3 separate regions of the Homo sapiens genome follow, and regions 2 and 3 are each reported to be linked to region 1. The links are microRNA targets in miRTarBase. Many come from high-throughput screens and were not tested one by one. Region 1 holds a microRNA gene; each other region holds the end of a gene's coding sequence. Distances are from middle to middle.
The links. The annotated mature microRNA hsa-miR-624-3p reads CACAAGGUAUUGGUAUUACCU and lies in region 1 at 3,040-3,060, shown strand. An mRNA with a match to its seed (bases 2 to 7 or 8) in the 3' UTR can be bound and repressed. Matches are read on the target gene's strand: a 7mer-m8 pairs with bases 2 to 8, a 7mer-A1 pairs with bases 2 to 7 and ends in A, and an 8mer does both.

Region 1 (4,067 bases):
CACAGCAAAATTTAGCAGAAAGTACAAGTAGTCTCCTACCCCAAAGTTTTGCCTTTTCCAGAATACATTCATATACCTTCCCATGGTATCCTTGGGGGAAATTTGTTCCAGGGGTTCTCCTCCAGGATACAAAATCCTCAGATGCTCAAGTCCCTCAATACAATGAGTTTGTAACTTATGCACATCTTCCTGTATATTTTAAATCTCTAGATTACTTTTTTTTTTTTTTTGAGACGGAGTCTCGCTGCGTCGCCCAGGGTGGAGTGCAGTGGCGCGATCTCGGCTCACTGCAAGCTCTGCCTCCTGGGTTCACGCCATTCTCCTGCCTCAGCCTCCCTAGTAGGTGGGACTACAGGCACCCGCCACCACGCCCGGCTAATTTTTTGTATTTTTAGTAGAGACGGGGTTTCACCTTGTTAGCCAGGATGGTCTCGATCTCCTGACCTTGTGATTTGCCTGCCTTGGCCTCCCAAAGTGCTGGGATTACAGGCGTGAGCCACTGCGCCCGGCCTAGATTACTTATATAATCTAAATGCTATGTAAATAGTTGTTACACTTTTTAAAACTTTTTATTTGAGACAGGGTCTCAGTCTGTCACCCAGGCTGGAGTGCAGTAAAACAATCACTGCTCACTGCAGCCTTGATCTCTGGGTTCAGGTGATCCTCCCACCTCAGCCTCCTGAGTAGCTAGGACTACAGGCACCCGCCACCACACCTGGCTAATTTTTGTATTTTTTCTAGAGACAGAGTTTTGCTAAGTTGCTGAGGCTGGTTTTGAGCTTCTGGGCTCAAGCTATCTGCCATCCTTGGCCTCCCAAAGTGCTAGGATTACAGGTGTCAGCTACTGCACCTGGCTAGTTGCTATAATTTTTAAAAATTATTTTTTGGCTGGGCGCAGTGGCTCATGACTGTAATCCCAGCACTTTGGGAGGCCAAAGCGGGTGGATCACAAGGTCAGGAGTTTGAGACCAGCCTGGCCAATATGGTGAAACGCCGTTTCTACTAAAAATATAAAAGTTAGCCAGGTGTGCTGGCACGTGCCTGTAATCCCAGCTACTTGGGAAGCTGAGGGCAGGAGAATCGCTTTAACCCGGGAGGCGGAGGTTGTAGTGAGTCGAGATCGCGCCACTGCACTCTAGCCTGGGCGACAGAGCGAGACTCTGTCTCAAAATATATATATATATATTTTTATTATTTTTCTGGAATATTTTTGCCTTGCCATTGTTTGAATCTGTGAATGGGGAACCCTTGGATACAGAGGGTTGCCTTAGTTTGAATCGTATAATATGTAGCCTTTTCACTTAGTAGCAGTGTATTTAAGGCTTCTCCTTGTCTTTTCTATGGGTTGATTATTTCTTTTTAGTGCTGAACAATATTCCATTTATGGATGTGCTACAGTTTGTTCACCTTTTGGAGGGTATCTTGGTTACTTTCAAGTTTTGACAATTATGAGTAAAGGCTGTAAACATCCATGTGCAGGTTTTTGTGTGGACGTATAAGTTTTCATGTAATTTGAGTAAATACCAGGGAGTGTGATTGTTGGATCATATGGTAAGATTATATTTAATTATGTAAGAAACTGCCACATGATCTTCCAAAGTGGCTGTACCATTTTGCATTCCCACCAGTAATGAGTGAGAATTATTATTGCTCCCCTTTCAGCTTTTGGAGTTGTAGTGATTTGGATTTTAACCATTTTGGTAGTTATGCAGTGGTATCTCACTGTTTTTAATTTACATTCCCCTAATGAAAAACAGTATTGAAGCCAGGCATGGTAGCATGTGCCTGAAGTCCCAGCTACCTGGTGGAGGAGTGAGATGGAGGATTGCTTGAGCCCCAGAGGTTGTGGCTACGGTGATCCATGATCACCCCACTGCACTCCGGCCTGGGTGACAGAGTGAGTCCCTGTCTCACAAGGTTCTGTAGAGGCCTGCTGGGAACAGAACTGAACTTCTAAAAGTAAATGTCTTGGCAGCTGCTTTCCAAGGCCTGGCTATAAGTAAGGTCTGCAGAGCCAAAAGGAGCATACAGCTCTTCTTAAAATTGAAGGTGTTGGCTGGGGGCACGGTGGCTCATGCCTGTAATCCCAGCACTTTGGGAGGCCAAGGCGGGTGGATCACCTGAGGTCAGGAGTTCGAGACCAGCCTGGCCAGCATGGTGAAACCCTGTCTCTACTAAAAATACAAAAAATTAGCTCGGTGTGATGGTGCATGCCTGTAGTTCAGCTACTCAGGAGGCTGAGACAGGAGAATTGCTTGTACCTGGGAGGCAGAGGTTGCAGTGAGCCTAGATCGTGCCATTGTACTCCAGCCTAGGTGATGAATGAAACTCCGTCTCAAAAAAAAAAAAAAATTGAAAGTGTTTAAGCCCAAGATGAAACTGAATTCTATTTAAGAGTTGTGCTTATGTGTATAAAGCAAAGAATAACATAGGCAAACGGAACAAAACTATAGTAATTGGGGAAACGCAACTCATACCTGTGGAAACCAGTGGCATGGTTTGTGTCAAATTCTGAAGCAGCCTTCCTGGTAAGGCTACTGGACACAGAATACCCTTCAAGGAAACTAATGAAAAGTAAATAAATAAAAGTGGGTGTGAGGCTGGACGCGGTGGCGCTCACGCTTGTAGTCCCAGCACTTTGGGAGGCCAAGGCGGGCGGATCACTTGAGGTCAGGAGTTTGAGACCAGTCTGGCCAACATGGTGAAATCCTGTCTCTAGAAAAAAATACAAAAATTAGCCGGGCATGGTGGCGCATGCCTGTAATCCCACCTACTTGGGAGGCTGAGGCAGGAGAATCGCTTGAACCTGGGAGGTGTAGGTTGTAGTGAGCAAAGATTGCACCATTGTACTTTAGCCTGGGTGACAGACTGCAGCCTGGGCAACAGAGTGAGACCCTGTTTTTTTTTTTTTTTTTAAAGTGGTTTTGTGTTCTTGTAATGAAAAAGAAAAAAAGGTTAAAAAAGGATGTGCTTTTGACCAATATATAATGCTGTTTCAAGGTAGTACCAGTACCTTGTGTTCAGTGGAACCAAGGTAAACACAAGGTATTGGTATTACCTTGAGATAGCATTACACCTAAGTGGTTTCAGTGAACAAGATTTAAAAGACTAGAATTAAAGCAATTATAAATGTAAAGTAAAATTTTGGACTACTTTTAGATAGACTTTATAAACAGACGTAAAAATTCCTATTAAAAATTTTGCACTTTGGCCGGGCGCAGTGGCTCACGCCTGTAATCCCAGCACTTTTGGAGGCTGAGGCAGGTGGATCACAAGATTAGGAGTTCGAGAACAGCCTGACCCACATGGTGAAACCCCGTCTTTACTAAAAATACAAAAATTAGCAGGGTGTGGTGTCAACGCGCCTGTAGTTCCAGCTACTCGGGAGGCTGAGGCAGGAGAATCACTTGAACCCGGGAGGCGGAGGTTGCAGTGGGCCGAGATCACGTCACTGCACTCCAGCTTGGGCAACAGAGCAAGACTCTGTCTCAGAACAGCAACAACAACAACAATTTTTGCACTTTCAGGACACTTACAGGCTCCTTCCTATAATCCCAGCACTTTGGGAGACCAAGGCAGGAGGATAACTTGAAGTCAGAAATTCAAGACCAATCTGGGCAACAAAGTGATACCCTGTCTCTACAAGAAATTTAAAAAATTAGCTGGACACAATGGTGTTGTACCTGTAGTCCTAGCTACTCGGGAAACCGGGACGGGAGGATCGCTTGAGCCCAAGGGGTCAAGGCTGCTGTGAGCCATGATCTCACCACTGCACTCTAGTCTGGTCAATAGACTGACACTCTGTCTCAAATAATAATAATAATAATAATAATAATAATAATAATAATAATAATAATAATAATAAAATTGCTTTGAGAAGCCAAGGCAGGAAGATTGGTTGAGGCCAGGAGTTCGAGACCAGCCTGGGCAACATAGTGAGACCCCCCCCGTTTCTACAGAAAAGAAAAAATTTAGCCAGACATAGTGACATGCACCTGTATTCCTAGCTTTGGAGGCTCAGGGGAGAGGATTGCTTGAGCCCAGGAGTTTGAAGTTGTAATGAGCTA
Region 2 (4,067 bases), not on the chromosome of region 1:
GCAGGCCCCAGTGCTGCCAGCCTGCGTGCTGCCAACCCACTTGCTGTCGCCCCAGCTGCTGTGAGACGACCTGCTGCCACCCTAGGTGCTGCATCTCCAGCTGCTGTCGCCCCAGCTGCTGTGTGTCCAGCTGCTGCAAGCCCCAGTGCTGCCAGTCTGTGTGCTGCCAGCCCAACTGCTGCCGCCCCAGCTGCAGCATCTCCAGCTGCTGCCGCCCCTCTTGCTGTGAATCCAGCTGCTGCCGCCCCTGCTGCTGCGTGCGTCCAGTCTGTGGCCGAGTCTCCTGCCACACCACTTGCTATCGCCCAACCTGTGTCATCTCCAGCTGCCCCCGCCCCTTGTGCTGTGCCTCCTCTTGCTGCTGAGCCCACTGCCCTGGCTTATCTCCCCCTTCACCACTGGCCCACAGATGTAGACCCTTCTACTGTGCTGACCATTAGGATACAGGAAGTGGGGTTGATGTCATTCAATAGAATGGAACTCATGTTTCCAATGAGCCCATCACCATTTCACTGACTCTTTGAGAACATTCTGATTCATTTTAAACTCCCTCCCTTGCTTTCTTTTTCTTCCGGTGGTGGCACCAAATGTGAATTAATTTGTAATCCACTAGCTAGAAATTATTCCAATCCTCTAATTTCCTCATTTTCTTTATCACTTTGAGGTACAGATCTTCTTCTCAGTGAGGCAGACATTATCTGCAGGACCAGTTTTGTCACTGAGGTTGCACCCTCAGATCCAGCCGCCCAGTTATATTCTGTGTTTCTCCTAGTGTGAATTTCTTATGCTTTGTTGCATCTCTGCTTTTTAATAAAATTTCTGTACATAAGAATTCATTGGTATCATTCTCTATTGCTTTCATAATTATTTTACTGATTCCCTGACAATTATATTTTACACAAAGACGCAGGAAAAGCAACCCGTGTTGAAATCACTTTGAAAATACATGCTATATCGAATATAGATAATTTACGGTATTGGAATAGAAGTGCTGTGTGTATATGTGTGTGTATGTGTGTGTGTGTGTGTGCACATGTGTCTTAATATCCTAAATTAAGACAGTTTTAATTCATACCTTAGCTCTTGAAACACATTTTATCTTTAACACATTATATCTCATAATACTATCGTCCCTGTTTTGACAAAAAAGATAAAACCAAATTTCTGAAAATTAGACACCAATGAAAGAAGGGAAATCTTCTATAAAGAATTTCATGTACTGAATTCATTTTACTCAATAACAACATTTTGGAATTTATAATCAAAAAGTGGGCTTTATTTCCCAGTGAGTTCTGCTGAGACAAAAAAGCATATTGAGCTGTAGTTCATCTGGATAGCATGGTATATTGCTGACTGTGGTCTCTACGGGTTTACATTATAATTTAAACAACTCCACACTTAACATTTTAATATATATAAACCCAGAAAGGATGAAAATTTCAAGGCTCGCTTTTCTTTTTAAGAATTATTTTATTGGAATTAGTTCAGTCTTGAGTAGGTCGCAGCTGGGGTGCATATCCTAATTAGAATTTCCAAGAGAGGTGCCTTCATTTGAATCTGAAAGAATATGGTAAGTGACTATAACTTGGCATTCTAGTAGGAGCACCTGCTCTTGATGTTTTTACTTTTATTTGACTATTATCAGCTCTGAAATGGCCTTAAGCTATTGAGCCAATCAAGTTTAAGATGATTTGTTCAGATATGTTCAAATATGAAAAATAAGCTTCATATTTTTTCAGATGCCTTAAGAAAAATGTTGTCCAGATCTCAGTCATAGAGTTATGATGCCTTCTTAAACATGAGGCAGGATAAATAAGGTTAGGAGGCTGTGAAAGTAAAATAAATATTGGGGCCCCCAAATCACTAAGCTAAAGGGAAAAGGCAAACTCGGAACTGCTTAGGACAAACTTGCCTCTCATTCTATTCAAAGTCACCCCTCTGCTCACTGAGATAAATGCACTGATTGCCTCCTTGGGAAAGGCTAATCAGAAACTCAAAAGAAGGCAACCATTTGTCTCTTATATACCTATGATCTGGAAGCCCCCTCCCAGCTTCGAGTTGTCCCGCCTTTGCTTCGAGTTGTCTTGCCTTTTCTGGACCAAATCCGTGTTCATCTTACATATGTTGATTGATATCTCATGTCTCCCTAAAATGTATAAAACAAAAGTGTTATCTGACCACCTTACACACATGTCATCAGGACTTCCTGAGGCTGTGTCACCGGAGCATCCTCAACCTTAGCAAAATAAACTTTCTCAATTAACTGAGACCTGTCTCAGATTTTCTGGGTTAACATTTTGGTAACTGTGAAAGGATTCTGAGTGGAGATGCCCTTGACCTTTGACGAATATCCTGTTGGTGCCTGGTAATAGCATGAGCTAACTTTATGGCTCAAATCAATAGGACAATTTGCTGAGGTCTGGGAGCACCCTCCCCAAAGAATCCCTGATCTCCCCAAATTTGGTGAAGAACTAAAGTTCATTTTGCTGTACAACTGCCCCACCTATTTTTGTTTTTGGAGTTTTACTTGCTTACTTGCCTTCCTTATAAGGAAGGCAAGATTTACTTTTACTTCCTTTACAAGGAAGGCAAGATTTCCTGCTTCCATGATGATGAAAGGCATGTAGAGTTTGAGCTCACTCCCAGCAGGGAAGACCAGTTTGAGTTTTTTTCCTGCTTCTAGGGTGGTAGAAAGCAGCCTTCAGCCTGAGACCCATCCCTAGGTAAGTAGCTGAACTGGGGCTTTGTCTGGGCTAAAGTTTAACAACCAGCTAGCTGCTCTTAATTTCTCCTTATCATTAGAGTGCTTGGTAATCCTATGGTTGGAGATTTTGTTGTTTGTTTTGGTCTTTCTCCCATCAGACTTGACCAACTCTACCTGACTTGGTCAAATCCAAGTGAGAATTCAAAATTACGGGTAACAAAACCTCTCTAATTTGGCTAAAATTCATTGCAGCTGCAAAAGAAGAAAACAAACAAAAAGAACCAAAAACCCATGCACTTGGTTTCTGTGTTTGCTTCCTGTCTTAAAACACGAATGTTCTTTCGTTTACTTTTCTTGCACCATATACCTCCTCCCCCTTTGCCATATGCAGTACCAAAAAGTCTAGAGAAGGCTTCTAATGACTTGAACCCCCTTAAAGAATTCAGAACAAAGGTTGCCACTCACCCCTTTTGGGGTGTTTTGTTTTCTTTGTGGAGTTTCAAGAGTCATGGGTAGATTCTTCTTAACTCTAAACCTCTATTTTCCTGTATTGCATGACCTGACCTCTTTGGCTTTGACCTTGTTGTGTATAGTGGTAGATGAGAGCTACAAAGTTAAGGGGTGGCTGAGCAAGGTTTACAAAAAGTGGTCTTGGCTGTTGTTTTGTTTTCCTTCTAGGAATTTGTCGTTTAAAGATCCTAATTCTAGTTCACAAATGCATTCTAAAGGATCTTCTCTGTTGCTTTTTCTCCCCAAATTAAGCTCAATTCAGCTTGTCTGTGTGCATTTGCATGAGGAACTGAACTGTTGTTTTCAGTGGTGACCCACTGTGGAGTCCTGCCCACAAATGGCACATATTGATCCACCACAGAAAACCTCTAGGCCTCAGCTCAGTTCCTCTTTTTAAGAAGAAAACTGGGAAACAAATAATCTAAGAATGAGGAGAAAGCAAAGAGAATGATTCCCTTTCAAGCACTCCATAGGTTTTATGGCACCTGTACTTGCCAGAGTTTAAGTAAAATGGAAGTAATATGGTCTTTGTGCATATTTACATTAAGAAAGAAAGGGCCCATGTAAATTAGTTCAACCATTGTGGAAGACAGTATGGTGATTCCTCAAGGATCTAGAATCAGAAATACCATTTGATCCAGCAATCCCATTACTTGTTATATACCCAAAGGAATACAAATCATTCTACTATAAAGACACAGGCACATGTATGTTTATTGCAGCACTATTTACAAGAGCAAAGACATGGAACTAACCCAAACGCCCATCAATTATAGACTTGATAAAGAAAATGTGGTACATATACACCATGGAATACGATGCAGCCATAAAACGGAGTGAGATCATGTCCTTT
Region 3 (4,067 bases), 38 Mb from region 1:
GCTTTGCTGGGTTTCCCAGTGCCGCTGCCACCGCCGCTGCCACCGGGCTGCTGGACAGCCCCACGTCCATCACCCCACCCCCTATTCTGAGCGCCGATGACCTCCTGGGCTCACCTACCCTGCCCGATGGCACCAATAACCCTTTTGCCTTCTCCAGCCAGGAGCTGGCAAGCCTCTTTGCCCCTAGCATGGGGCTGCCCGGGGGTGGCTCCCCGACCACCTTCCTCTTCCGGCCCATGTCCGAGTCCCCTCACATGTTTGACTCTCCCCCCAGCCCTCAGGATTCTCTCTCGGACCAGGAGGGCTACCTGAGCAGCTCCAGCAGCAGCCACAGTGGCTCAGACTCCCCGACCTTGGACAACTCAAGACGCCTGCCCATCTTCAGCAGACTTTCCATCTCAGATGACTAAGCCAGGGTAGGGAGGGACCTCCTGCCTACTCCAGCCCCTACCCTGCACCCACATCCCATACCCTCTTCTCCCTACCCATCCCATTCCCCACAGGCCCTACATTAACAAGGTTAAGCTCAACCCCTTTCCCCCAGCACCTCAGAATGTGCCCTCCCTCTCCCCCTCATAACCCCACCTAACATAAGGACAAGTCAATTTGTCAGTAGCTTCTTCTGGCTTGAAACCCCCTCCCTGGATTTTATAGCCCACTTACCATGCATAACAGACAAGTCCCATATTTTGTCAGTAGATGCCTTTTTTTTTCCGGCTTAAGCCTTAAGTGCCAAATCACAAGAGAAAAAGCAGTAACAGTTTACAGAAGCAACTTAGTGCCTTGTAATCTAACTTTGTCACTGTGACTACATTACCTCTTCAGCGCCAGAGGGCACCCGTGGGCCTCCCGGAGCCTCTGCCCATGGCGGGGTGGAGACCCGGAACCAGCAGCCCCCTCCACTGGCGACACAACTGCACCTTCCCTCATTTCAGTCTCCCGCACACTTATTCCTCCTCCCCTCTTCCCGGTGGCACCTCTCCACCTGTACCCGCCCCCCCACCCCCCCCACCCCTGCCCCTTGGAAGAGTTGTTGCCAGACCAGGGTTTTGGGGGAAACCTGTCTTGACATTCAAAACCTTTTTCTTCCCGATCTGAACCCCTGTTGACTAATCTTGCCTGGGTTTGTGTAGGTCTGCAGGAAGGAAGGCTGAAAAAGCGGACGAAGATTTTGACTTAAGTGGGACTTTGTGATTTAATTTTTTCTTTTTTTTAAGTGGGGAGGAAGGGGAAGCTAGATGGACTAGGAGAGACTTGATTTTGGTGCTAAAGTTCCCCAGTTCATATGTGACATCTTTTTAAAAAAAATAACAACAAAAAAAAAATGAGAGAAAAGCTAAAAAAAAAAAAGTAAGGGGTGAGCAGTTAATGGTATTCATTCCACATACAATATCTGTGTAAAACGATTTCCTGTAGAAGTAGCTTTAATGGTTTTTGCTCTAGAATACCGTAGGTCTATCCTTAGAGCACTCACGCCATGCTTTCTTCCCTGGGTTTTAAACTTCATATAACTTTCAGAAATTGGAGAGCAAAAATTTTGCTTGTCACTGCACATCAATATAAAAAAGCTTATTTAACTTATCAAAACGTATTTATTGCCAAACTATGCTTTTTTTTGTTAATTTTGTTCATATTTATCGGGATGACAAATCCATAGAATATATTCTTTTATGTTAAATTATGATCTTCATATTAATCTTAAAATTTTGTGACGTGTCTTTTTCCTTTTTTTCCACAGTTTTAATATATTATTCTTCAACGACATTTTTTGTAACTTTACACTTTTTTGGTTATTTTATTTTAAAAAAATGAAAAATTAATTTAAAAAAATGCAAAAAACTGTTGGATTATTTATTTTAGAAATTCCCCCCTTTGTGTTGGACTGCAAATTGAGTTTCTTTCTCTTTAGGCCTTTCACAACTAGGACTGAGAATGTATGTAAAAGTTCTGTGACAGTACAGAAGGAAAACAACTTTTTATGTATAGCTTCTAAAAGGGGAAAAAAAAAAAAAGAGAAACCCTTTGACTTCCACGTGCCCATCTCAAGACATTCCACTCACAGATTTGAGGTTCTGGATTCCAGGTCTGGAGTTTTCCAATGTTAATGTAAACAGAACTGGCACACACACATTAAGATGAATGTAATTATTATTCCTCTTGCTGGTCACTACCGTCGCTTTCTATTTCTCTTTCTTTGTGTGAATTTATTTAAAAGAAAAAAAAACTTTTTGTAACGACTATTTGCAGTTTAAAAATCAATAAACCCCGTTTTTTCAAGAAACATTGATGGTGGAGCTGGTTTTACTTGGTTTTGGTTTGACTTTGCCAGTAAGGTTCTCCCCTTGTATACCTTGCAAGTCCTGGGTAGGGGGAGGCGGAGAGAGAGGGCTGTGGCTGTGGGTGGCGGCATCTCTCATCCCTATAAGCTAAGCCTATAGCTCCCTTCCTTGATGCTGGCAGTTTGCTGCGCTTAGAGGGGACGGGGTGGAGGTTTTCTGCAAAGGAGCCTGTACTTCCTGCTGTATTACTTCTGAAAAGACTGTGCAGTGTGTTAGTTGTTGGCTGAATAGCAGCGGGCCCAGCCTTGCCGACACTTGTGTGGCCTCTGCGGTTCTTCTGGGGAGCCAAGGCTCAGGGCCTTCCAGTCCGCCCCGTCCAGCCTGTGCTCTTCATTCCTTTGGATGGTGTTTGGGGTGCCAAAATGATAAAAGAGGACCTAGCACTTGGCACACTTGCAGGCTTGGATTTGAGTGAGTTCTTTTATTGGGGTGCCTTGGGCTCATTTTGCCCATAAGAAAGAAATTTACCTCAGTACTGGCCTCTCAACACCTACCCGTGTGGGGAGGGTATAAGGAAGCACTGCCTGCTTGGAGAGGAATGTCCAGCGGGGTGAGGGGCTCAGTCACAAGGAACTGGGAACTGGGACTGGATTTGACATAGCCTTTTGGGTTTGGAGGGCTGTTAAGGGGAAGTGAGTGTTAACACTGGCCAACACAACACAGCAAGTCACCAAGGGTTCCCACCACCTTAGTTACAATCTCAGGTGCTATGCAAAATTAGGTATGTCGTCATCTTGGGAAAGGTGGGGTCTCCTTGGCTAGATGCACCCCCACCAAGGCTAGATGACCACTTAAGAGGTGGCATTTCACCCGCCGGAGGAGTTGGAACTTTCACAAATCTTGAGTGTGAGCCTTGGGAGGATTTATTTGGGGAGAGGCAGAGATTGCTATTTGCAGCTCACTTGCCTTTGGTTCCTTTACACCCAGGAAGTTTTGGGAGTTCAGCTGAGTCACCATGATTCCACCAGGCCTCTTCCGAAGGTCTGCAGCAGACATTGGGCAGGCCAGGGATGTCCCTGAGACTCGAAGACCTACCTCTACTCTCAACTCATTTCCCTGGTCATCAGATATCTACTGGGGGTCAGGGGGTGAGGTAGAAAAATAGGGACTATTACCTGTTCCAGGGCAGGGGCTGGTGGTTTAGGAAGGGGAAAAGCAGCCCTTCTTAGGACTGGAGTAAACCTAGGCCTCTTGTCCCTTAAGGAGGAAATGAACTTTGTGTGTGTGTGGAGGTGGTGGTGGTGGTGGTTGGTGGTGGCATGTGATCTTCCTTTCGGAGTAAAAGCAAAAAAGACATTTAATCATTCACCTTGAGCTCATTCCCTGCAGGCATACCTGAGCATGTGGCAGACACCTTTCTAACTTCCCCTCTCATGGTGACGCTGGTTAGGTTCCTAGAGGCCCAGGCGTACCTCCTGGCCAGCCCTGAATTTCCTCTAGAGGAGACAGTCCTTTGACTGAGTCAGTCCTTTGACTTTGTCTAACCAAGATAGAGACATTGACTACTGGAGGCCCTGGAGGGTGGGGGTTGGCTGTAAAGCCCAGGGGAGACTCCTTATCATGTGGGGAAGCTCCATGTCCCCGGGTCTTAACCCTTTACCTCTACCTAAGTGTCTCCCTGGGGAACTCACTCAGGCTGGGATTTAGGTAACCCAGGCCCATGTGTGGTGGCCACAAGAGCCTGGTTGTGTCCCATTGAGTCCTTAAAGTTAGAGGAGATGGCCCTTG

Region 2: miRTarBase lists KRTAP4-9 as a target of hsa-miR-624-3p. The part of its 3' UTR that is shown has no 7-base or 8-base seed match.
Region 3: the mRNA of ZFP36L1 is a reported target of hsa-miR-624-3p. Seed matches in the 3' UTR shown: 7mer-A1 at 782-788.

Annotation. Positions count from the first base shown.
Region 1 is chr14:31,013,662-31,017,728 of GRCh38, reverse strand. MIR624 (microRNA 624) reads left to right here and starts at 2,987; the gene lies at 2,987-3,083. The region is part of intron 1 of STRN3 (striatin 3); the gene reads left to right.
Region 2 is chr17:41,105,657-41,109,723 of GRCh38, forward strand. It overlaps KRTAP4-9 (keratin associated protein 4-9), which reads left to right. Exons shown (of 1, transcript NM_001146041.1): 1 at 1-832. The coding sequence ends at 365. LOC124904002 (a long non-coding RNA gene) reads left to right here and starts at 2,576. Exons shown (of 2, transcript XR_007065754.1): 1 at 2,576-2,723.
Region 3 is chr14:68,785,876-68,789,942 of GRCh38, reverse strand. ZFP36L1 (ZFP36 ring finger protein like 1) reads left to right here. Exons shown (of 2, transcript NM_004926.4): 2 at 1-2,281. The coding sequence ends at 410. Among named protein-coding and RNA genes, the nearest start is that of ZFP36L1, 5.2 kb to the left of the region's middle. RefSeq lists enhancers at 66-145, 156-215, 2,648-2,827, 3,117-3,411 and silencers at 3,688-3,737, 3,758-3,827.